Regions from separate parts of the Homo sapiens genome. Here regions 1, 2 and 3 are each linked to region 4. Evidence: fine-mapped expression QTL. A gene starts in region 4. Each other region holds a variant in brackets. All regions are shown on one strand. Distances are between the middles of the regions.

Region 1 (5,603 bases), 21 kb before region 4:
AGCAGCATGATCTTGACTCACTGCAACCTCCACCTCCCAGGTTCAAGTGATTCCTGAGTAGCTGCAACTATAGGGGTGCACCACCATGCCCGGCTAATTTTTGTATTTTTAGTAGAGATGGGTTTCACTGTGTTGGCCAGGCTGGTCTTGAACTCCTGTCCTTAGGTGATCCACCCACCTAAGCCTCCCAAAGTGCTGGGATTACAGGCGTGAGCCACTGCGCCCAGTCTAGAACTACTTTGAAAGTCAAAATAGTTACCATTCTTTGAGGTTATCTGAATGCATCTTACAACACTAAACAACGTTTTCAAATTTGGAAGTACAAAGGAGATTACAAAAGAACACCCACGGAAATAATAGGGAGAAAGGTTACACAGCTCTGAACTACTGATTTACTTACAGGTACATAAAACCGGACACTAGTTTTCCTTATTCCTTTATAATTACCATAGGCTGCAATAACAGATGAAATTTTTTTTTATTCAATTTATTCTTGACAATATAAAAAATATGAATATCACATAAATATATGAATATATTTTCTACTGAAGTCAGTTGAAACTATAAAAACTAGTTATCACTAAAACTTCTTGGCCCCAAGAATAAAAAGTTATACTTAAAGAATACATTTTAAAGAACAGTCTATAGTTGTCCATGTACCATTTATACTCATGTAATTGCCTCAAACTTAAATCTAAGCAAACACCTATAAATTACACTCTCTGAACCCCAATTTGTAATCTTCTAAGACCCCATCATTCTCTATATCTTTTTGGCCATGCAAATAACTATTGTTATTTTCCTTTCTATAAGATGTTAGTTAGAATACCCTCTAGATTTCTGGCTTCCACCAAAGCTCTCCAGTCCAGTAATTCTGGCTTTTCTTCCAGGCTTTCCAAAAGTCTCCTAGAATCATCCAAGGCTTCTATGCAAAGATACTTTCCTCCCAAGACTAAAAAGAATAGCAAGTCCAGAGTTACAGGAGAATGATATCCTGAGAAAGTGTCAAAATTGCCTTCTGATTTCCAGGAACAGTAAACCAATGAATACACATAAAGAAGAAAATCAAAATACTACTCTATGCCTTCTTCAGGGAATTAAACTTTGGTTTGGGGAGCCTGACTCTTCTACTCTGACTCTCAATCTCTTATCTGTTCTTCAGGGACTCAAAAATTCTTCCTGAAAATTAACCATCACTAGTTCTAGGCATTTCAAAGGACTCCAACACATTTTTAAAAACAAATGTTTATGTGTTTGGCATGTTATTTTCCTCTTATAAGGTTCCATGAAGGCAGAGTTGTATTACTTGAGAATCACACTGCAACAAATAGTACACTACTAATACGGGTTGGCTCTGTGTCCCCACCCAAATCTCACCTTAAATTGTAATAATCACCACGTGTCAAGGGCAGGACCACGTGGTGGTAACGGATCAAGGGGACAGTTTCCTCCATGCTGTTCTTGTGATAATGAGTAAGTCTCATGAGATCTGATGGTTTTATAAGCATCTGGTATTCCCCCTGCTGGCATGCATTCTCTCTCCTGCTGCCCTGTGAAGAGGTGCCTTCCCCCATGATTCTAAGTTTTCTGAGCCTCCCCAGCCATGCAGAACTGGGAGTCAATTAAACCTCTTTTCTTTATAAATTACCCAGTCTCAAGTTTTTCTTCACAGCAGTGTGAGAAAGGACTAATACAGTAGACTAGTACCAGGAGTGGTGTGCTGCTACAAGGATACCTGAAAATGTGGAAGTGACTTTGGAACTGGGTAGCAGGCAGAGGTTGGAACAGTTTGGAGGGCTCAGAAGAACACAGAAAAATGTGGGAAACTCTGGAACTTCCTAGAGACTTGCTGAATGGTTTTGACCAAAATGATGATAGTGATATGGACAATGAAGTTCAAGCTGAGGTGGTTGCAGATGAAGAAGAACTTGTCCTTGCTGTGCTTTGGCAAAGAGACTGGCAGCATTTTGTCCCTGCCCTAGAGATTTGTGGAACTTTGAACTTGAGAGAGGTGTTTATGGTATCTGGCAGAATAAATTTCTAAGCAGCAAAGTGTTCAAGAGGTGATTTGGAAGGGGGGATTGCTCTTAAAAGCATACAGTTTTAAGCATTCACAAAGATATGGTTTGGAATTGGAATTTATGTTTAAAAGGGAAGCAGTGAATAGAGGTTTAGAAAATGTGTAGCCTGACAATGCAATAGAAAAGAAAAACCCATTTTCTGGGGAGAAATTCAAGCCAGCTGCAGAAATTTGCATAAGTAACAAGGAATCAAAAGCTAATCACCAAGACAATGGGGAAAATGCCTCCAGGGCATGTCAGAGATGTCGGCAACCCCTCCCATCACAAGCCCAGAGGCCTAAGAGGGAAAAATGGGTTTCCTGGGCTGGGTCCAGGGCCCCTCTGCTGTGTGCAGCCTCGGGACTTGGTGCTCTGCACCCAGCCACTCCAGCCATGGCTAAAAGGGGCCAAGGTACAACTCAGGCCATGGCTTCAGAGGGTACAAGCCCCAAGTTTTGGCAGCTTCCACATGGTGCTGGGCCTGCAAGTGCACAGGATGAGAACTGAGGTTTGGGAACCTCCACCTAGATTTCAGAGGATGTATGGAAATGCCTGGAGGTCCAGGCAGAAGTCTGCTGCAGGGGCAGGACCCTCATGGAGAACCTCTGCTAGGGAAGTGTGGAAGGGAAATGTGTGGCTGGAACTTCCACTGAGTCCCCACTAGGGCACTGCCTAGTGGAGCTGTAAGAAGAGGGCCACCATCCTACAGATCCCGGAATGGTAGATCCACTGACAGCTTGCATTATGCATCTGGAAAAGCCACAGACACTCAAGGTCAGCTGTGAAAGCAGCCAGAAGGTGGGGATGTACCCTGCAAAGCCACAGGGGTGGAGCTGCCCAAGGCCATGGGAACCTACCTCTGACATCAGTGTGACCTGGATGTCAGACGTGGAGTCAAAGGAGATAATTTTGGAAGTTTAAGGTTTAATGACTGCCCGATTGGATTTCAGAACTGCATGGCCTATATCCCTTTGTTTTAGCCAATTTCTCCCA[T/C]TTGGAACAGGTATATTTACCCAATGCTTATACTCCCCTTATATCTAGAAAGTAACTAACTTGCTTTTGAAGCAGGCTCATAGGTGGAAGGAACTTGCCTTGTCTCAGATGAGACTTTGGATTTGGACTTTTGAGTCTGGAATGGGTTAAGACTTTGGGGGACGGTTGGAAAGGAATGATTTGCAATGTGAGGACATAAGATTTGGGAAGGGCCACAGGCAGGATGATATGGTTTGGCTCTGTGTTCCCACCCAAATCTCACCTTGAATTGTAATAATCACATGTCAAGGGCAGGAGCACATGGAGGTGACTGGATCATGGGGGTGGTTCCCCCATGCTGTTCTCATGATAATGTGTGAGTCTCATGAGATCTGATGGGTTTATAAGCATCTGCCATTTCCCCTGCTGGCATTCATTCTCTCTCCTGCAGCCCTGTGAAGAGGTGCCTTCCGCCATGATTGTAAGTTTCCTGCGGCCTCCCCAACCATGCAGAACTGTGAGTCACTTAAACCTCTTTTCTTTATAAATTACCCAGTCTCAGGTATTTCTTCATAGCAGCATGAGAATGGACTAATACAACTACTTTTACACAGTAACAAATTTCAATGTCCAGTGGATCTATCCACAGAATACAGGACAACCACACAAAGTGTCATCTTCAAATTTAGAACATTAACACGAAACAATATGGCCTTATTATAATGAATAATATGTAATTAATAAATCCAGTAGAAACAAAGATGCTCTATAAATTATTTCCCTTTAAAGTCATTGTGAAACAAAAGCATAAATCCTACTTACAAATACAGACACAAAACTATAAAAGATAAAAATATCCTGATACAAATCAGGGGTTGCCAAACTTTTCCTGTAAAAGACCTAACAAGTAAATATTTTAGGCTTTGACAGCTAACAAACAAAATGAAGGATATTATATAACTACTTATATAATGAGACAAAAAATTCCATAATTCTTATCGATGCAATTCAAAATATTATAGAAACAATAACAGAGTACAACTTTCTGTAAGACAGGTTGACTAAGGAGAAGAATGAAACTCTTTTTAGGGACAATATTTCACTTAGTTGGGATTCAAAGTTAGTATTCCCTATCATCAAAATCAATCACAAATGTTCATACATTCTAATGTTTACCTTGAATACAATACATTTCATGTTTGAAAATGTCTACTTTTCAAAGTAGGTTAGGTGCTACTTTATACTGATAGTAGTCACAAGCATATGATTTCAATTCAGCATAATCATTGTTTGGAAGGCATCTAAAGGATTTACTCTTAGTATTTACGTGCCATTATTTGCAGATTAATCATTCCAATTAAAGGTTAAATAAGAAGTGCCTCAACTGCACAGTTAAATGGAAATTTCCTTGGCACTTACATCGAGTTCTAAAAAATGCTGCTGAAACTGTAGTTTGAACTCAGAAAACATACCTATTGCAAACTGGGTAGGAATGGAGACCTTACTTCTTTGCTTTAACTTATAACAGCATGGAAAGCTATATAAAATTACTTGATATTACTTGTGATTCAAAGAATAGTGGTTGCCATTGAAATAACTTTACTGCAGTATTAGTTTTGATATAACAACTGTTTTGTCTTGTAATTTTAGGTTGAATTCATTAAGAAATACTATTGAGTCTGCATCACAAATTGATTTCTAAAGCCATTCAGCGTTCAATATTCAGATTGACAGCAGTTTCTCACATTCAGAAAAATTTCAATCTCACTTCTAAATTCAAAAGTTTGCAATAAAGCCTTACAACTATTAAACCATCAAATTGCTGTACAGCAGGGCAAGTGAGAATATTCAGCTTCTATTTCTGACAAAAATTCCTAGAACTGACAATGGTTAAGTCCACAAGAGCAAATGTTGACACTACTGGTTCAAGATTACATGATAGATTCAAACATTCTCTGCAAAATACCTGCTAAGAAATAAAATAAGTAACTGTAGACTTCAAACTTCTTACACTTTCACAGCTTTATTTGTCCACCTGAATTCTTTTCTATTCTATACAAATTTTTACTACCATCAGTTATAACACATCTTAGCAGACTACACTTCATTCAGGTTGCATGCCATTAGTGTTTTCTCAACTTTTTGAAATATTCTTATCTTTAGCTATTCTACACACACTATTCATTAAGATTATTTAACACTTCAAACTCAGCCTTGACTTTTCAAATAAACAACTGAGCAGTATTGGTAACATCTGTCAACTCATCAAAAGCCAAGGAAAACCACTCAAAATAATTTGCCTTTTTAATTGATTATTGATGTCCTCAATTCTTTGAGCAACTCTTCTTGCCAAAAGACTAACAGTCTTAAGTTTACCTTCTCCAGACACAATTCTGCGCCTGTTGTAACCAACACAATTTAGTTACTTCACTATTGATAAATGACTTCCTTGCTTGGTTAACAAATGAGCCACTTGGAAGTTTACTCTGGGTGCAGCCTGATTTTTATTTTCTAATTTTGTAAAGAAATTCTACTGGAATAAGATATTCCTTTTTATGTTTTCTCATTTTT
Region 2 (5,603 bases), 110 kb before region 4:
AGGCAACAATGAGAGCGCTCCTCGTCCTCACAGAGCTCTCCATCAACAGCTGTCAAAGAAATCATGCTAAGGGGCAAACGCAACTATACAGTAAATCATCCGGAAGGTGGGGACCATCACCCACCCCTGGGTTAATATTCCCTCCTTAGCCACCTGGCAAACACCTCTGCTTGCTTCAGCACGTGGCTGACCTCACCTCCTCCAGACCATTTCTCAGGTGCATGCTGTTATAACCACACACAGTATCCTATGACTGCTTCATGGCTTTCTCTACCAGGACATGAGTTCCTTGAGGACAGGAGTTGTGTCTCAAATTTGTTGGCATTCAGTAAGTTGGACTGATATATAGGTGTAAATAATAGGCCTATAGAAATACTTGTATGAGATTCAAATTAGAATAGACAAAAATAAGTCCTCGTGAGAGTCTCCAGACTCCCTCCCTGTGTAATCTCCCATGGGCTGCACAGAAACTTTCGTTATGAAAGACCTTGGGAAAGTCCCCGTTATGGAACCTGAGACCCTCGGACATTATATAATGCTTTTTCTTGTGAAAAGCAAATGAGACTAACAAATCATGACTCTAGTCTGCAATTCTTAAGCAAAGTAAACAAAATCTGTGTGATTTTCTCTAGAAGGTATGTTTCATAGCTGCAACAGGAAAGACAATGTGTAATGTTTGTAAATCCCCTATTTGAAGTGCCTCTTTATTGAGAAATTATGCTTTGCTTCTATTGAAAATAGAGACTTTTGATGATTAGTGTGCTAAATGAGGCAAGAGTTCTAATTCAGTGCTACCAGCAACTTCCATTTTTTGGTTCGGGTATTAAAATAGGTGAGAACAGAACCTCTTCTCCTCCTTCCTCTCCCACCTTTGCTGGAAAAGGTGCCAAATAGCTCTCACAAGCCCTCAGCAAAATGCCTCCATGCGCATATGTCTACCACGGCCACTAGGTAAGCCATGCCAATCATGGGGCTCAGAGCCTCCTGGATGATTGATGAACTCCACTTCGGAAAAAGTCTGAAGGCAGTGTGGGTATTGCCTAGATACAGCTCAGACTGTATTTCTCAGGGAATAAAAGGGAAGGGGAATATTTTTGTCCACTACTAGTATCCTAAGACTTCTGTAACACTGCGATAAAAGTATCAGAGTATATAGTCTAGTTCAGGGAAGAGAAGGGCCCCTAATTTTGGCAGACCCCAAAACAGCCATTCACTCTTTGAGTCAAAAATGGCTCACTGAAAGTCAGACTGACCTGTTCACAACGACTGGCAAGCTTAGGAGTATTACCCTCACTGCATCCACTTTTTTCAGAGGGAGCGACAAAGAGCCAGGGTACACACGTGGACCCGCATTACTTGCAGTGGGGAAAAAAACTCCACAAAAATAAAAAGAGCTAACCTGTGATACGCTGGTAAACTAACTCTTCCAGGGGGATAGGGGATAGGTAAAGCCCTGATGTGTAGTGTTTGCCAATTTCCATGTGTGAATCCTCTCACCGCGGCTACAGTTTCAGCTATCAACGGTGGAAAGGCTTGCGACATTCCTTAACATTCCACAGTTGGCTTTGGGACAGCCTGGTATGTACCAGCCCTCGCACATCACTGCAGCTAACATTAAGGGTTTGTATGGTGCCGTGATAAGCACTTTAAATTCAGTATCTCATTTAATCTTCCCAATGGTCCTACAAAGGAAGGTCCTGTTATCATCTCCATTTTGAGGTGAGATAACACAGCCACAGAGAGGATAAGTAACTTGCCCAAAGTCCCACAGCTTAGAAGTGGTACAGCTGAGGCTAGAATTGTTTTCTGACTGCAGACTTGAAGTTCTCACAATACCCAAATACATCTCATGATCCAAAAGAGGCCTGTTTTAAATAGCCAATAAGTATCTAGCCAAATAGCAGGAACAGTGCCTTGGCCACAGGAGGCACAGTCCAAATAAGACCAACTATTTGTGGCTTCTGTCAACCTTCTTCACCCACTCACAGCAGAACACATAAGGATTCCTTTCCCTTGAAAACTCGATCCTCTCCTTCCTTGATTCTTCCTTCCAGTCTGACTCTCAAACCTTAACACTTTCCTGTTAGTGACTAAGAGTCTCTGTTCCTCTCTTGGTCCTCCCTTGAACGATTCCAATACCATGTACTATAACTGAAGAGCCCTATTCCTTTTCCAGGAACAAAGAGAGGTCACCAAGCAGCTGTGTTGCCCTAGGGAGCTGGCAGCTATCTAAATGTCCTATACTAGCACAAGAAGCACAGTGAGCTGGTCCTTCCCCAGGGGATGTTTTTAACATCAGATGGAGAAACTGTTTTTGACACTGGCACAGGGATCACTGCTGACTTTTTAAAAAGGAATGAACAGTGACATATTCATATCATATCTAGAAGTCAGGAATAATTTTAAGACTGAGGAGAAATAAAAACTCAACAGAAATTAAGCGTGTCTTAAATCTTTCAAGAACTATCATGTCTAGACTGATCAAAATCAAGAAAACCACCACTGGGATAGTTAGAATCCCCAGGCATTTGAGGGTTAGGGAGGAAGGCAGAGAGAGGGCAGATGCCCAGGGCCTGACCCTGAGAACCTGATTGGCCAGGTTCAAACGATAAAGAGACTCACAATGGCCTGTCAGGAATAGCATGAAGGATGAGCCCCCAGGTGGCCAGGAAACCAGGCATGGCTGCTGCTGCTCACCAGGCCACTCATCAAATGCGTCACTGAGTAATCCGCACAGAGGAAGCTGGGAGAGGGCCAGGGCTGCAGCCAGTGGCACCCTGCAGTCCAGGAGGAGGTCTGAAATTGCAAGCTGTCCACCATTAACAAGTAATGAAATCAATTTCCTGGGGCAGGTCCAGGAATTTTACAAAATGAAACCAATTAGAAAATGTCAGAATGTATCATATATAATAAAGGCAAAGCTATTGTTTTATTAAATTTTTGCTGTATGCACAGAAACAGGCTCATATACATATTTAGGTTAAATGAAATGCTTACTTCCTCTACTCTACAACTTTATTCTTTTTTTAAAAAAGGGATGAGAAAATAATTACTATATGAAAGAAATCCATGTTACAT[A/G]AAGAAAAGTGATGTTGGGAAATGTTTTTCCATTGTTACATGATTTTGTTGTCAAAAACACTGAGCCTCTTTTTTAAGAACTCTAATATGTGCAACTTAAAATAATTGTCCTGTTTGTTTTAAAATCTTCCAAATGAAGAGGTGCAATAGGTTCTGAACATTCAACATAAAATGCAACCTTTCAATTAATTTGCAAGAACTGACATCAAGAAAGACGCAAATAGCCAAATAAACACTTCTGCTTAGTGGGCATGATTTTAAAATGAAGCTCATTACTTCAGATTGCAGCCAATAATCTGTTTCTTCCACTTGGATCTACACACCTTTGTGAAGTTACACTTTTAGCTGTAACAGTCATTAAAACTAAGCATTGAAATAAAAATGAAATCATTGTCCCTAAATTGTTATCCTAAGATTTAAAAAAAAATAAAGTATATTTAATGTCATGGCTCTCAATGAAAATATTACTCCTATTTTTTGGAAGGATTTTGTAGCAGTAAGATTACTTTTCAGTGTCTTCACATTATAGTCTTCCATATTTCTACATTTCATGGATTTTTATAAATTATATACAAGCACTACTATAATTTACAAGTATCCTTAAACTACCAACATAGTAACAGTGTGTAACTCACACACACTTTATTGTTAACAAAGCCTGAAGAGCACTGTCCTAGGTGAGAGTGACAGTGACAGTGGTCAACACAATCCTGCCCTATGGGTCAAATGAAATGGGGTCAAGAGCTATGATTGACTCTTACTTAGGCCAAGGGCTTCTGGGAGACAGAAGGGCAGACACTGATTTGATGTCTACAAATATTGCTTTAAAAATTTTTTATAATTTTATATTTCTTTTACAAAGTAAATAATTATCATATGAAAAAATACAAAGTAAAAGGTAAAAGTCTCCCTTAATGCAAGAGGTTTTGCATTTTGATTTAAATAAAGACAATTTTAAGTGCTGGTTTTAAAAAGGAATTACCATGAAAGTTTTTTCCTAAAATACTAAGAATTCATCTATGGCGCGAACTAATGAAATATGTAAGAAATTAGTTTATATTTTGAAAAGTACACAAAAGATGTTTTTATTGTCTAATAATCCCATACTAAACAACTCAGGGAAAAAGTTTCCACTAAAAATAGGAACTGATTATTTCTTGTGATGAACAAATATGTATTTTACACAATTCCCTAATGAGAACCAAGGAAAATGGTGCCTTTCTTTTAACACGAATATTTCTGAATGCGGTTTCTAGCTGCCTTGAACAAACTCCCTTCTTTTGTTGCTACGTTTCTGCAAATCTCTTCCAGATCCACTGCGGTTTATGACATTCTATCCAATTAGTTGTCAACATAGTTCCTTTTACCTTCACTGTGATGACTTTACTTTTGCTAAGAAGATTTCATGCAATCAACCTGTTCAATTAAGGCTATACAAAAAGCTATTCTCAAAAACCTACTGCTAGGCAACAGAAACGTGTTGAACTAAATCTCAGGCGAAAAATATTTCTAAATAGAGATGAGAACAATTGTAGTCACTTCAGAATAATTAATACAAAATACAAAATAAATTTTGTTAAAATTTGTAAGCACAGGTAAACACACACAAACCTTAAATGAGTATTTTCACATGTATGTATATGTGTGACTATGTACTGTATACATATTTGGCATACATGGTAGATCCCCAATAACTAGCTGACTTAGTTTAATATGTTTGCTCAGCCGCCCACCTCTGTCACCTTTGCTATGAATTTGAGAACACAGTATGGAATGTCAGTGTTCTGCGTTTTCAAGAGAGCACAGTTATTGCAAACCCTTTGCAGTTAGTTGCTTTGAAGAGCAACAAATGAGGTGAATTCTTATGGTAAAGGCAGAATAGTTTATTATCCTAAATTCACAACTAGGTTAGATTTTGAAATATGGGCTTTGTATTGCAAACCAAACTAAAACATTTCATCCACATTTATTTATCTTTGGGGAAAAAAGTTTTGATTGGAAAAAGGCTTTTAAGGGCTAACAGAATTCATGAGAAGAGTTCCTCAGGCTTCTTAGAAAGCTAATTCTTCTTAAGAAACAACTTTGATAAGTGTAAATGAATCAGAAACATATGGATTAAATTTCCCCTTAAACAAACACTTTAAAAAGGATTTAAAAATTAAAGGAAATATGTTTAGTAAAGTATATTTGAGAAATGTTACAAAACATATTTCAAAATGTTTGGAAAATAGCTTGAGGTATTTTACAAAACCCAAATGAAGTTCAATTCATCCACATCTAATTACGTAATAATTACTAACACTATAGTTTAGGATTTTTGTTATGGAATACAGTGGTCATACCATGGTTATTTGTTTAAAAAATTATTTAAGATGTAGTAATTGACAGACGTTTTGAATATTCAGACGAGATTAGGTGTGTTCAGATGGTGTGGCCATGGTATTTTGAACATTCAGAATTAACTTTGTTCTGGTGCTTCAAAGTTGAACAATGAGCCCCATCCATGACTTGGTGAAGCCCCTATG
Region 3 (5,603 bases), 100 kb before region 4:
ATGCCCAGGTGAAGCCCCACGTCTGCCTGGCCAGGTGCAGTTGAAGTGGTGACATCCAGCCAGGGAGGGGGAGGAGCACCTGAGTACCAGCCTCCAGCCTTGGGGCATCAGTTGTTGGAACCAGCCAGGTGAGACCTGAGCCCACCCTGCCTTTCTGCTTATCATTAGAAAGGTAGCAGCTGATGCTGGGAAGAGACGGAGCCAGGCAATGCTTCCATCTTCCCTCACGATTTCTAGTTAAATTCCTGGCATCTCTGGGCAAACACTCCAACACTGTGCCATGCTCTGCCATGGGAGCCAGGTCAGTCACAGGTGGCACTGGTCATATGCACTGGAGAAAGGACTGCAGGGAGAGTGGGAGGGCTCTAGCCACAAATGTCTCCTGTCTTTGTCCCACTTAACCTAATTCTTTTTCTTTATACCCCCCAAGAGACCGAAACCTCACTTAAAGCCACAGGAAGAAAATTACGGCTGGGGCCATGGCATTAAATTGTTGCTAGGTCCCTTCCAGTTATAAATATTACACAACTGCATGGCAGCATAATTATGCAAAAATATCTACTTCACACTTGGTCCACCAGGAGCACTTCTGGGATCCAAAGATAGAGGTAAAAAGGCCGCGGATAGCCCAGAGAAACGACACACAGCACTAGAGCCCAAAGAATAGACCTCCCTACCACTCCTCATCCCTAAACTGCAGTACTCATTTACACATGATGCTAACAAGCCTAACAACTATTTCTCTAGGTTCACTGAAGACTAGAAATAGGACACTGAAGAGGAAGAAAGGCTGATAAGAGACCAGTGGAAATGTTATAAAAGCAAACATCAAAATTCAAAGACCAGTCAGTGAGAGAGCTTTAAAGAAAAAAAAAAGCTGTGCTACCCCTCCACTAACTGCAGAGAGTGGCATAAAACAAGGGACTGACTGACCTCATAACAACTCTGAATCCTAAAGAAAAGGGTAAGTTCCAATTCTTCAGTTTACAAACTCAAGGAACAAATGTGATATGCTTTAGCAAAGTTTCAAATTGATAAGCATGTGAAAAAATGTTCCACATCATCTGGAAACTGCAATGGAAACAATGAGGTACCGTTACACACCTATCAGTGAACCTAGTGAAACAGCTGTTAGGCTTGTTAGCCTCATTATTGCTATTAGAATGGCAAAACCCAAACTACCGACACTACCACATGCTGATGAGGATGTGGAGCAACAGAAACCTTTATCCATTGCAAGTGGGAATATGTAACGGTACAGCCACTTTGGAAGATAGTCTGGTAGCTTCTTATAAAACTATACATACTCTTACCATACGTTCTGGCAATCACATTCGTATTTACTCAAGTTGAAAACTTATGCACTTGCAAAAACCTGCACATGAATGTTTATAGCAGTTTTACTCATAATCGCTAAAACTTGGATGCAAACAAGATGTCCTTGAGTAGGTGAATGGATAAACAAATTGTGGTACATCCAGACAATGGAGTGTTATTCAGTGCTAAAAAGAAATGAGCTATCGTGCTACAGGAAGACATGGAAACTTAAATGCATACTGCTAAGTAAAAGAAGCCTGTCTGAAACAGCTACATACGATTCCAACTATATGACATTCTGGAAAAGACAAAACTAGAGAGTCACTAAAAGGCTCAGTGGTTGCCAGGAATTGGGAGGCGAGGGAAAAATGAATAGGTGGAACACAGGGAATTTTTAAGCAGTGAAACGATTTTGTCTGCTGTTGTAAAGATGGATACATGACATTATGCTTTTGTCAAAACCCATAAAAGTGTATAACACAAAGTGAACCCTAATGTCAACTACTGTCAATTACTGAATAATAATGCATCAACATCAGTTGATCAATTATAACAAATATACCACACTAATGTAAGATGTTAGTAAGAGGAGAAACTGGGGCGGGGGTTGTAAGTAAATGGGAGCTCCAAATTTTCTGCTCAATTTTTCTGTAAACATAAAACTGCTCTAAAAAAAATAAAGTCTATTAACTAAAAAAATTGTTTGGAGGAGGTCATAAAGTAAGACTTAGTCATCTAGAAAATGCACCATATGGAACATCTACTTTGCAATGGTGCTACACAAATAAGACAAGTGTATTGATTATGCCAGTTGGAATTAACTGAAAAAACACACATCTTACCTGCATCAACCTTGAAATTATTGGCATAAGCACAGCAAATACAAAATGTCAGGTTTATAATATGTGATTTTATGAGAACAAAAATCTGGGGAAAGCCATCCCTTACTAGTGAGGGGTTTGTTGCTCCCACTGGTGGCAAGAAGTGCACCCGTGACTATAGGTCAAAATGAACCACAAAGAAAGCGATGACAACCAACACTCTATAAATTTATTACCAAATATAACCTATGCACAAACACAGCTAAGCTAATGAGATTAGCAAAGTAGCAGCACAAAAGGTAAGGAAAAACACATTTAATAAATACAACTTGGAAACGTCTTTTTCTTTAAATTAGGTTCAAATACTGGGAGACAAACACTGAAACAAAAGTCTTAACAACGCACTTACAAGCCATCATAACATGCAGTGATCCTGCGAGACACTGTGTCCACTCACAGCCATGTTAACTGGGGGCCACTCCCTGCTGCCGTACCATCATATGAATATACATTTGTCAGTAAAAATGTGACAAAAATGTGATGTTTTTCCAGGTTTGTGTGTTTTCATAAAGTTACTCAGGTTTTTAGAGAATGAACATAGGAACATGTAGGATCCACAATTTTTAATGTCATCAGGTTAGT[T/C]TGTATTTACAAAACTCTAAGAAAATAGATGTGTGTTATGTTTGGAACTGCTGCTTTGAATGCAATACATCCAAATAATGAAGCTGACCATAACAAAGACGGGAAAAGTAATTCAGACATTTCACAGAGGCCTTATTTGGAATACAAACACTTTGCTAGAGAAAGAAAGATGGAATATTTTAAACAATTTCAAGATTAAAAAGAAAAGTTAATGGGAGGAGGGCAACAGCAGGAGGGAAGGATGTGCTTAAAAGAAACAAATCTGCATAGATGATGAACTGAATTTAATTCAATTCATTCCTGCCTAAAACTAAGCCTGGTTAACTGAGGTAGACTCTGGGAATTACACGTGCAAAGAGTCAGGTTTTCCAAAGGGCGATATTTTGTCATTTCAGATATGGTAAAGTAAAAGTGCATTTTATAGTTTCGAACAATCAAATGGGAGTCCTTTTATAAGAGGGAAACTTCTCTATACAAATTCCCTATTTTTTTGTGTCAAATTTCCATATGTACAAAAACCTACACACTGTTGGTAATAAAGCAATATCTAGGGTTTTTTTCATTTATTTTCTCAGAAAATGAGAAAGGTAAAATAAATTTTATGACATTACCTAAATATTTTTCCTGTTTTTATTAATAAGTCACTGGGAATTTAGAAATATCATTAAAGCTAAACAGTTGTCTGGAGCCAAAAAACCTAATAAAAATTCAAAGATCTATTTGTTAATGAGGTGAATGTTTAAAAATATATCTATTATCCTAATAATTTGATTATTAAAATACACAATTTCCACATTAAGAAACAAATATTAAAAGCAAATGTCAAAAAAATTTAAGTATGAAAAGCCTAATTTAAAAGTATAAATAAGTAAACTTACAATAATTACAACAGAGTTTTTAGCTTTTTCTGTAAAAATAGTTAGTGGAGATGACAGTAAAACATTCGAGGCTTAAATATTTTTACCCCCCTAACATGTCCCCTAAGTATAATTTCTGCTTTTTCCTATTGTGACATATTCTCAGGTTCACACAAATATTACGTGCATCACAAATTAAGTGGTTTCTTTAAAATATACAATCAAAACAGTTACGGAAAAAAAGATACAAAAAAGAGAATAGTTAGGATTTTTTCCTCATACAAGTTAAGGTGGCCTTTTCTTGGAAAAGGCCAGCATTCACCCTTAACATTTTATGCCTGTCATACAGAATATACCCTAAACTGATTTATCACTAATAAAAGTTATCTTAAGAGTGGGAATCCACTATTAGGCAAAGAAAGACTCAATAACCTAGACAATACTGAAGGAACCGAAGTCCACTCACACAACATGAAATACTTGCCTAGTCCTTCATTTTATCTCAAGTTAGGGTGGGGGGAAAGTGAATCACAGCTACCTCAGCTGGTTAGTGTTTTATGATTCTCATCACACATTTAGCAGTGTATATAAAAACTTATTCCTAAGGAAGGAATTCAAATGAACTCAAGCTGTCCAAAACCTAGAGTACTAATAATTTCATGTTCAACAGAGTCAGGCTATACAAAACAAAGTCAAAGAATGACAATCATACTGTAAATTTGGGTTGTACACACACATTTTCCCCTGATGTATGTGTATGACTGTCCATAGATTCACCAGGTATTGGTTTGCTTACTTTTTGAGTAATTCGTGCTTTCAGCCTATGTTTTGAGAGTGAAATATGACATCACAATCTCAGAAGCTGAAATTAAGCCCTGAGCTATACAGCTAGACCACCGCATGTTTTCCCCTTCCAAAATGGCTAGGTATTGTGGGAGGTAGTGGTCAGACCCGAAAGTGTGTAGATAAAGTCTGTGATGCCACCATCTATTGTCTACTTGGATCACTAGAAGGTTGCAGCTTCCATTAAAGAGGTGTTTATTTTACTAATATTAATTTCCTTTAAAAAAAGAAATTATGGGGGCAAAAGGTTTATAGTAAACATGTCATGCTTATAATAAACAGGCAGCTTGGGAAATGGTAAAAATTGTTCATTAAAATAGATCCATAATAGTTACACATTATTCAAATAAATGTATATCAGTTCTAATTTCAAAACAGATTTAAAGTGCAAAAAATAGGGGAAAAAAACTTTTATATATTTTTCCAAAGCACAAACAGATTACTATGCCTCTCCATCAGTGATCTAAACTCTTGTTTCAGTAGTAGAAGCCAGAAGCTATACAGAGTCGTTAGAGAAACTGCCAAGTTTGAACTGTACTCTCTAGTCCAGCTTTGTCTTGGTCCACAGAGCTCCTACTCACTGTGTCTTGGACCAACCAATACACGTCTACAGAATGAAGGGACTATCTGATCAGATATCTGCAAAGCAGACTTAGCTTAGTCCTACAGTCATTGTGCTGCAGAACTCAAAATACTCATGTTTTCAGAGGAATTAAAGGAGCCAAATATTTTTCCTTTGATAATGCATCTGCTACCGCAACACTGAATAACAAAACAAAACGAAGCAAAACAATTCAATCTCATTCTGGGTAAGGCAACACACTGTCTTCTGCAATAAAGACAGTCAGAGTGTGTGTGTGTGTGTGTATGTGAGTGTGAGTGTGTGTGTGATGTACATTAAAAGTTAGGGCTGGGCACAGTGGCTCACGCCTGTAATCCAAGCACTCATTCTGGTAAGGCAACACACTGTCTTCTGCAATAAAGACTGTGTGTGTGTGTGTGTGTGTGTGTGTGTGTGTGTGTGTCTCACGCCTATAAGGCAACACACTGTCTTCTGCAATAAAGACTCTGTGTGTGTGTATGTGTGTGTATGTGTGTCTGTCTCACGCCTGTAATCCTAGCA
Region 4 (5,603 bases):
CCTTGAATCCATGTCTTTCTGTAACTCCAAATGCTTAATTCAGACTCTCTTCACTTCTCTACTGGACTTTGTTTTTTTCTATTATACAACTGGCTTTTCTACTACCTGTAATGTTTCCCCTCCCAGGTCCATTCTCTACACTGGGGCTGGAGTTATCTTTCTAAAATACAAATCTGACGCCACCACCACTCTAGCTAAAATTCTTCAATGACTGCCCTATATCAAGAAAAATTCTAAACTCTGAATATGGTGCCAAGTACTTTAAGATCTGGCCTCACCCACTAATTGCAAGTATTCTGGGATCCAGTCATTCAGAACTACCTAGCGTTTCCCAAATACAAAATACTGATTCTTCAATCTATCCTTTGCTTATTTTGTGCCATCCATTTGTCCTAGAATGACTTTCCTCATCATCACTCCAGTGAAAGCTTATTCAACTATTTTAACACAAGTTAAAAGTCAAATCACACTGAAGGCCTCCCCTGACTTCCTTAGACAGAGTCAGGATCTTTCTACTAAATGACAGAGAATGGTCAGTGCTTGAGATCAGGACCAGACCCACCTGGGCTGAAATCCCAGGTTCACACGTTACCAGCTATGATTTTGAGCAAGGCCTCTAAAGCCTGTTTCCTCATCTCTAAAAATCAGTAACTACTTCACCAACTGTTTTGAGGATTAAGTAAGGAGTTGCATGCAAAATACTCCTCACAGCACCTGACATATTCAATAAATGTTACTGTTATGTGATTATTTCCTCTGGGCTCCTAGAGCAACTTGCACTTATCTCTACCACACTACTGTGATGACAAGACTGCCCATGCAGGATACAGACTATCTTTTTTCATCTCTTTATTCTCACCACCTGGCATAATGCCTGGCACATAGGTTCCTAACACATTTTGAATGAATAAATAAAATACTTCAAACCTTATGTTGTATCACATAAGGCCTCAATTTTGTTTTCTACCTGTCTTACTAAACCTACTTTCCATCTCCTCCTTGTACAAAATTGCAACCTCAAGTAAAATTTACACAGGTCAACTTCATTTTAATTAAGAGAAAGTTTTATAGGATTTGTGGTCTTTTTGTTTTTAAACACACACACACACAAACTCACAATAATATCAACAATTCTCCAACTTACTCCATAAAGCAGCAAATTTCTAGGATGGTTATCTACCTATTAAAAAATTTTAAAGGGTCGTCAAGGAAGGTTTCGTAAATCTGTGTCAGCTTCCTTTACCAGCAAGTCTTTGAGTCAACTCTAAGGACTCAAGTGTACTCCTGAACATAAAAAATATATAAAGAATTAACTAAATAATTAAAACATGGTATTTTTCCTTCCGAAAACATGCTGAGAAATTCTGAATAACACTGGAATAATCAAAGAATTATTGCTGCCTACTGCTAAAAAAGTCTGTTTTTAAAAGTTACTAGTAATTTAAAGCTGAACTAATCAAAATATGTGTAGGCAGTGTTCAGGCTGGCAAGGGGGGGGTGGGGTGGAGCACTCATTTCACAACCTTGAACCTCAAGAAATAAAATTCAAAAATGCAAAAAGTTAAAAATGCCAGATACCACCATATAATCGCAATGACATCTTTTTATCTATTTCCACACTTAACCTTTAAACATTACTGCCCTTTGAGTAATTACCAATTGATGGGTTTAATATGCAAACACCTCTGAGCTACTTTAAAACAAACATGACTAACCCAGAAATAAACGTATCCAGGAAAGGAGAAAAACCTGTTAAAACACGGTTTCTCAGGTCTCACATCCAATGTGTGACATACATACGGTTCTGCACCGAAAGGCAGCAACCTGCGAGGGTCAGAGGCGCCGAAGACCCGAGGCCCTGCAGCTTGGGCGGCTGCTCATCCCTGAGACTGTGCAGGGCGGTGGCCCAGCCGGGGTGGGGCTGAGCGCTGCAACTGGGGCGGGCCCAGCTACAGGGCGGGAAGCCCGAGGCTCACCTCCACTTCCCTTTCCCAACGCACAGAGCCCAGGTCCGCGACCACTCAACAGCCCCCTCAAGACAAAGAGAGATTTTTTTTTCTGTCCCGGTCCGCTCAAAGTTTATCGGTCTTTCCCGGCGGTCGGGGCCGCCGGGCTTTGTAGTTCGCCAGTCCGAGCTACCCCACCAAGACCGCGAGCCCGAGGAGTCGCTGAACTACAATTCCCATGATGCACCGCGAGCCTGGCGCTCCCGCGCCCCTCCCCGTCCCCGCACGGGAGCCAGCGCCCGAGGAACCCCGCAGCCCACTGCCCTGGCGTCTCCGGCAGTGGGAGGCCGAGAGGGGCTGTTGGCTAGAGCCCTCCACCACCTGCTGTCTCGCCCTCGCCCCTTTCTCTCGGATTCATTACCCAGAAGGCGCAGGTCCGGGCACATTCAGCGATGCGGTCCAGATGGGGTGCGGGTGGGGCGCAGGCCGCCGCCGCCGCCGCCGCCGAGTCCGTTAGCTCGCGACGTGCGTGAAAAGGCGGCGGCGGCGTAGTGTTGCCATGGCAGCCGCGGCCGCGCGGTGGGCGCAGCGCGGGAGGGAGCGCGGGGGCTGTGAGTCCGCTCTGGGGCGGAGCTTGGGACTCCCGCCCAGGTTGCCGGGGGGAGGGAGGTGCAGCGGCGCGGGGTGGGAGAGCAGGGAGACAGTGACATTGAGGAGGACGTGTGGCCGACTGAGCTCTGGTCGTGCTTGATGAGCCTGCCTCCACTGCGTCCAGCCCCCGTGGCAGGGCACCTTCGTGCCTGCTGCTTTCGGAGGTGATGCCAGTGGCGTCGAAGGAGGGGGCACCCGGGGCGTCGCAGCGCCTTTCCCGCCGCCTGTCCAGGCGTCCGCCGCTGGGTCTGCCCCCAAGGGATGTGTGGATCCTACGCCACCTCTGTGTTTTTCTCCAGTCAAACCGAATTGAAGTCTTTCGCACCCCCTTTCTCCATTCTCTGGGGAGGGGGATAGAAGGGAATCCTTCGATAAGATGGAATGCATATGGCCTTTAGGATTATTCAGGAGGTTTTAGAATTTGCAAATGGCATTGCTTTCGACTGAATTTGGATTTATGCTGTTTCTTGGCAATCGTTTGTGGACTCTAGGATAAACAGGTTAAGAGCGTGGGCTTCTAAAACGAATTCTTAGTTCACGTCCTGCCCCTGTGCTTGGTAGCTGATGACCAGAGGCGCCTTTCTCACCTCTTAACGTTTTGATCTGCAAAAATGGAGATATCCATCTTGCAACTCTTGTAAGAAATACACGCATTAATACTGATGAAGCTCTATAAAACAAAGCTTAGCATTTAACAATAGCTATTAAATATTAATTATTTAATCAATAGTGATAAAAGTCAGAATAGTGGTTGGCTGTCGGGGAGGAGTTTGAGAGAATTTTTTGTAGTGATGAAAAAATTCTATAGCTAAGAGTTTCGGTTACAGAAGTATATGCACTTGTCAAAACTCTTGGAATGGGACATTTAAGATTTGTACATTTCACTGCATGTAAATTTACCTCAAAAGAGAACATAAAAATGTGTTGTTATTATTATTAGAGCTATAGACTCTAATGGAAACTACAGAGATATTCTAGGCCCAATCTCTAGATTTTATAGATGGGAAAACTGAGGCCCAGAAATTTAATAGAAAAAAAGAGGAAGGGGAGTGAATTCGTGACCTTGTCATTTTCTAGTAATGAATATCTCCTGAAAAATTATGGTTGAAAATAACAAAAATGGCTCCTGTAATCCAGCTGAGTCATCCTACCACAGAGATTTTCTTGAACTTGACTGAGTCCCTTATCCACCTTGTGGTGTTCCCCACGGCCAATGTCCTCTCAAGGATTGCACCGTCACTTCTGGCTCTCAGTTCTTGCTTTTCCTGAACACTTAGACCTCTCCACATATCACCTCTTACAACTCTCCTCTCTCTACTCCTGCTGACACATAATTTCGAAATCAGCCCCTTTTCTTTGGTTGTTTCTATAGCCAACTCTTTAGAAGGTTTGGAGCAGATAAGTGGTTTTAAATTAAGGATGCAAAAAACCTAAAATTAGAAATCCCTGCTCTTAAAAGTCCTTCAGTTCCTCCCATGATATTTTTATCCACCTACCACCTACCCCCATTTTTTCATCATAACCTGTAACCTCCCACTATTGTACCATCTTTCTGGTCCCATCTCTCCCCTCCTCTCCTCTCTTTATACAATACTTTTATTTCCATCTCCTAATCTGTGCCTTCATAGCTACCTGCCATTCCTAAACTGTTTACCAAAGTTTTTTCCTACACAAAGTAACTTCCCAAGAGGAACTCTGGAGCCAGCTATTAAAATAATATTTTTTCACATATGTATCCTCATATTCTATTTGATTCAGTCCACAGTGTAGCTGCTCAATAAATATTAAGCAGCTTACGTACATGACCTGTTGATATAGTTTGGCTGTGTCCCCACCCACCTCTCACTTTATTGTAATAATTCCCACCTGTCAAGGGCAGGGCCAGGTGGGGATAATTGAATCATGGGCGCGGTTTCACCCGTACTGTTCTTATGGTAGTGAATAAGTCTCATGAGATCTGATGGCTTTATAAATGGGAGTTCCCCTACACAAGCTCTTTTGCCTGCCACTGTGTAAGAAGCCCCTTTGCTCTTCCTTCATCTTCCGCCATGATTGTGAGGCCTCCCCAGCCATGTGGAACTGAGTCCATTAAAACTCTTTCCTTTATAAATTACCCTGTCTTGGTTATGTCTTTATTAGCAGCATGAAAACGGACTAATACACCTGTCCTGGCTACCTTCACAGTGGGTTCACTTATGAAACCCATTTTCTTACATCCATAATAATGGTTTACTCTAGTATAAATGAGGAAGCTATGTGATAATAGCTGGAATCTGCTGTCTAAGAGGAAGAAAAGAAACCAAAGTAACCATAGCTTGTACAGAAGAAATGACAGCACTTAAGAGATGAAGTCCGGAACAAAGTCTGGTATGAAGCCATAGGACATCCTTATAGGAACTTGGACCTGTCACCTGCAGCAATTTGGTCACAACTCTGCATATGTAATGAGCATGTAAATAAATTCTCCTTTACTCCTGGAGAAGATGTTACTGATCTGCTACCAGCTGAACACATGTTTGTAGTAGGGATGATAGGTTCACCGGATCCATCTCTCCCTGATCTGGTTTCCCTTGTGACCGATCACTTGTCTTTCTTTGCAAGGCAGCTGGCCAAGGTTGTAGTGCAGCCTACAGCCATGACGAAGTCTCCAAAGACAAGGTCCCAATGCATAACGCTCCTTGTTTTGTGAAGCCAGGATCCCAGAAAATCAGCTCAGCAGGACAGGCCACTTGAGAATGGATGACAGCAGCACAAACAAAAGCTGTCACAAAAGTGAGTTGGAGGTGGGCAGTCGCGGGAGGGAAGACCACAAGCCACTGAAGCACAGCCTTAAAATGCCTCGCATGGCTATGGACAGGTAGGAACGAATAAGGACCGATAGTAAACCATAGTTTATTGTTTTCACCAGATACTTTGGACCTGTTCAAGTGATAGTTAAACACCCTATACAAATCCAAAAGATGGAGCTGAAAGTAGTAGCACATTAATCCACACAGGCAGTGTGGT

Direction of the effects. Alleles are on the strand shown, and positions count from the first base shown. SD is a standard deviation of normalised expression in the study named. Not every link is listed here.
As copies of C replace T in region 1, the expression in aorta of the gene that starts at base 2,588 in region 4 goes up (moderate effect, 0.45 SD a copy in GTEx).
In carriers of allele G in region 2, the expression in fibroblasts of the gene that starts at base 2,588 in region 4 tends to be lower than with A alone (small effect, 0.15 SD a copy in GTEx).

What was found. PIP is the estimated chance that this variant, and not a neighbour inherited with it, causes the effect.
Region 1: its variant is the best candidate, but not a certain one, in a credible set for the expression of KATNAL1 in aorta (GTEx, PIP 0.76).
Region 2: its variant is the best candidate, but not a certain one, in a credible set for the expression of KATNAL1 in fibroblasts (GTEx, PIP 0.87).
Region 3: its variant is the best candidate, but not a certain one, in a credible set for the expression of KATNAL1 in iPS cells (iPSCORE, PIP 0.90).

The regions. Positions count from the first base shown.
Region 1 is chr13:30,283,931-30,289,533 of GRCh38, forward strand. All of the region lies in intron 1 of KATNAL1 (katanin catalytic subunit A1 like 1), which reads right to left. Among named protein-coding and RNA genes, the nearest start is that of KATNAL1, 21 kb to the right of the region's middle. RefSeq lists an enhancer at 1,949-2,571. The variant T/C (reference allele first, on the strand shown) is at 3,054.
Region 2 is chr13:30,193,545-30,199,147 of GRCh38, forward strand. No RefSeq gene overlaps it. Among named protein-coding and RNA genes, the nearest start is that of LINC00385, 43 kb to the left of the region's middle. The variant A/G (reference allele first, on the strand shown) is at 3,079.
Region 3 is chr13:30,200,285-30,205,887 of GRCh38, forward strand. KATNAL1 (katanin catalytic subunit A1 like 1) reads right to left here. Exons shown (of 11, transcript NM_032116.5): 11 at 2,346-5,603. Among named protein-coding and RNA genes, the nearest start is that of LINC00385, 49 kb to the left of the region's middle. RefSeq lists a silencer at 4,361-4,410. The variant T/C (reference allele first, on the strand shown) is at 2,781.
Region 4 is chr13:30,304,964-30,310,566 of GRCh38, forward strand. KATNAL1 (katanin catalytic subunit A1 like 1) reads right to left here and starts at 2,588. Exons shown (of 11, transcript NM_032116.5): 1 at 2,368-2,588. RefSeq lists silencers at 2,223-2,332, 2,363-2,592.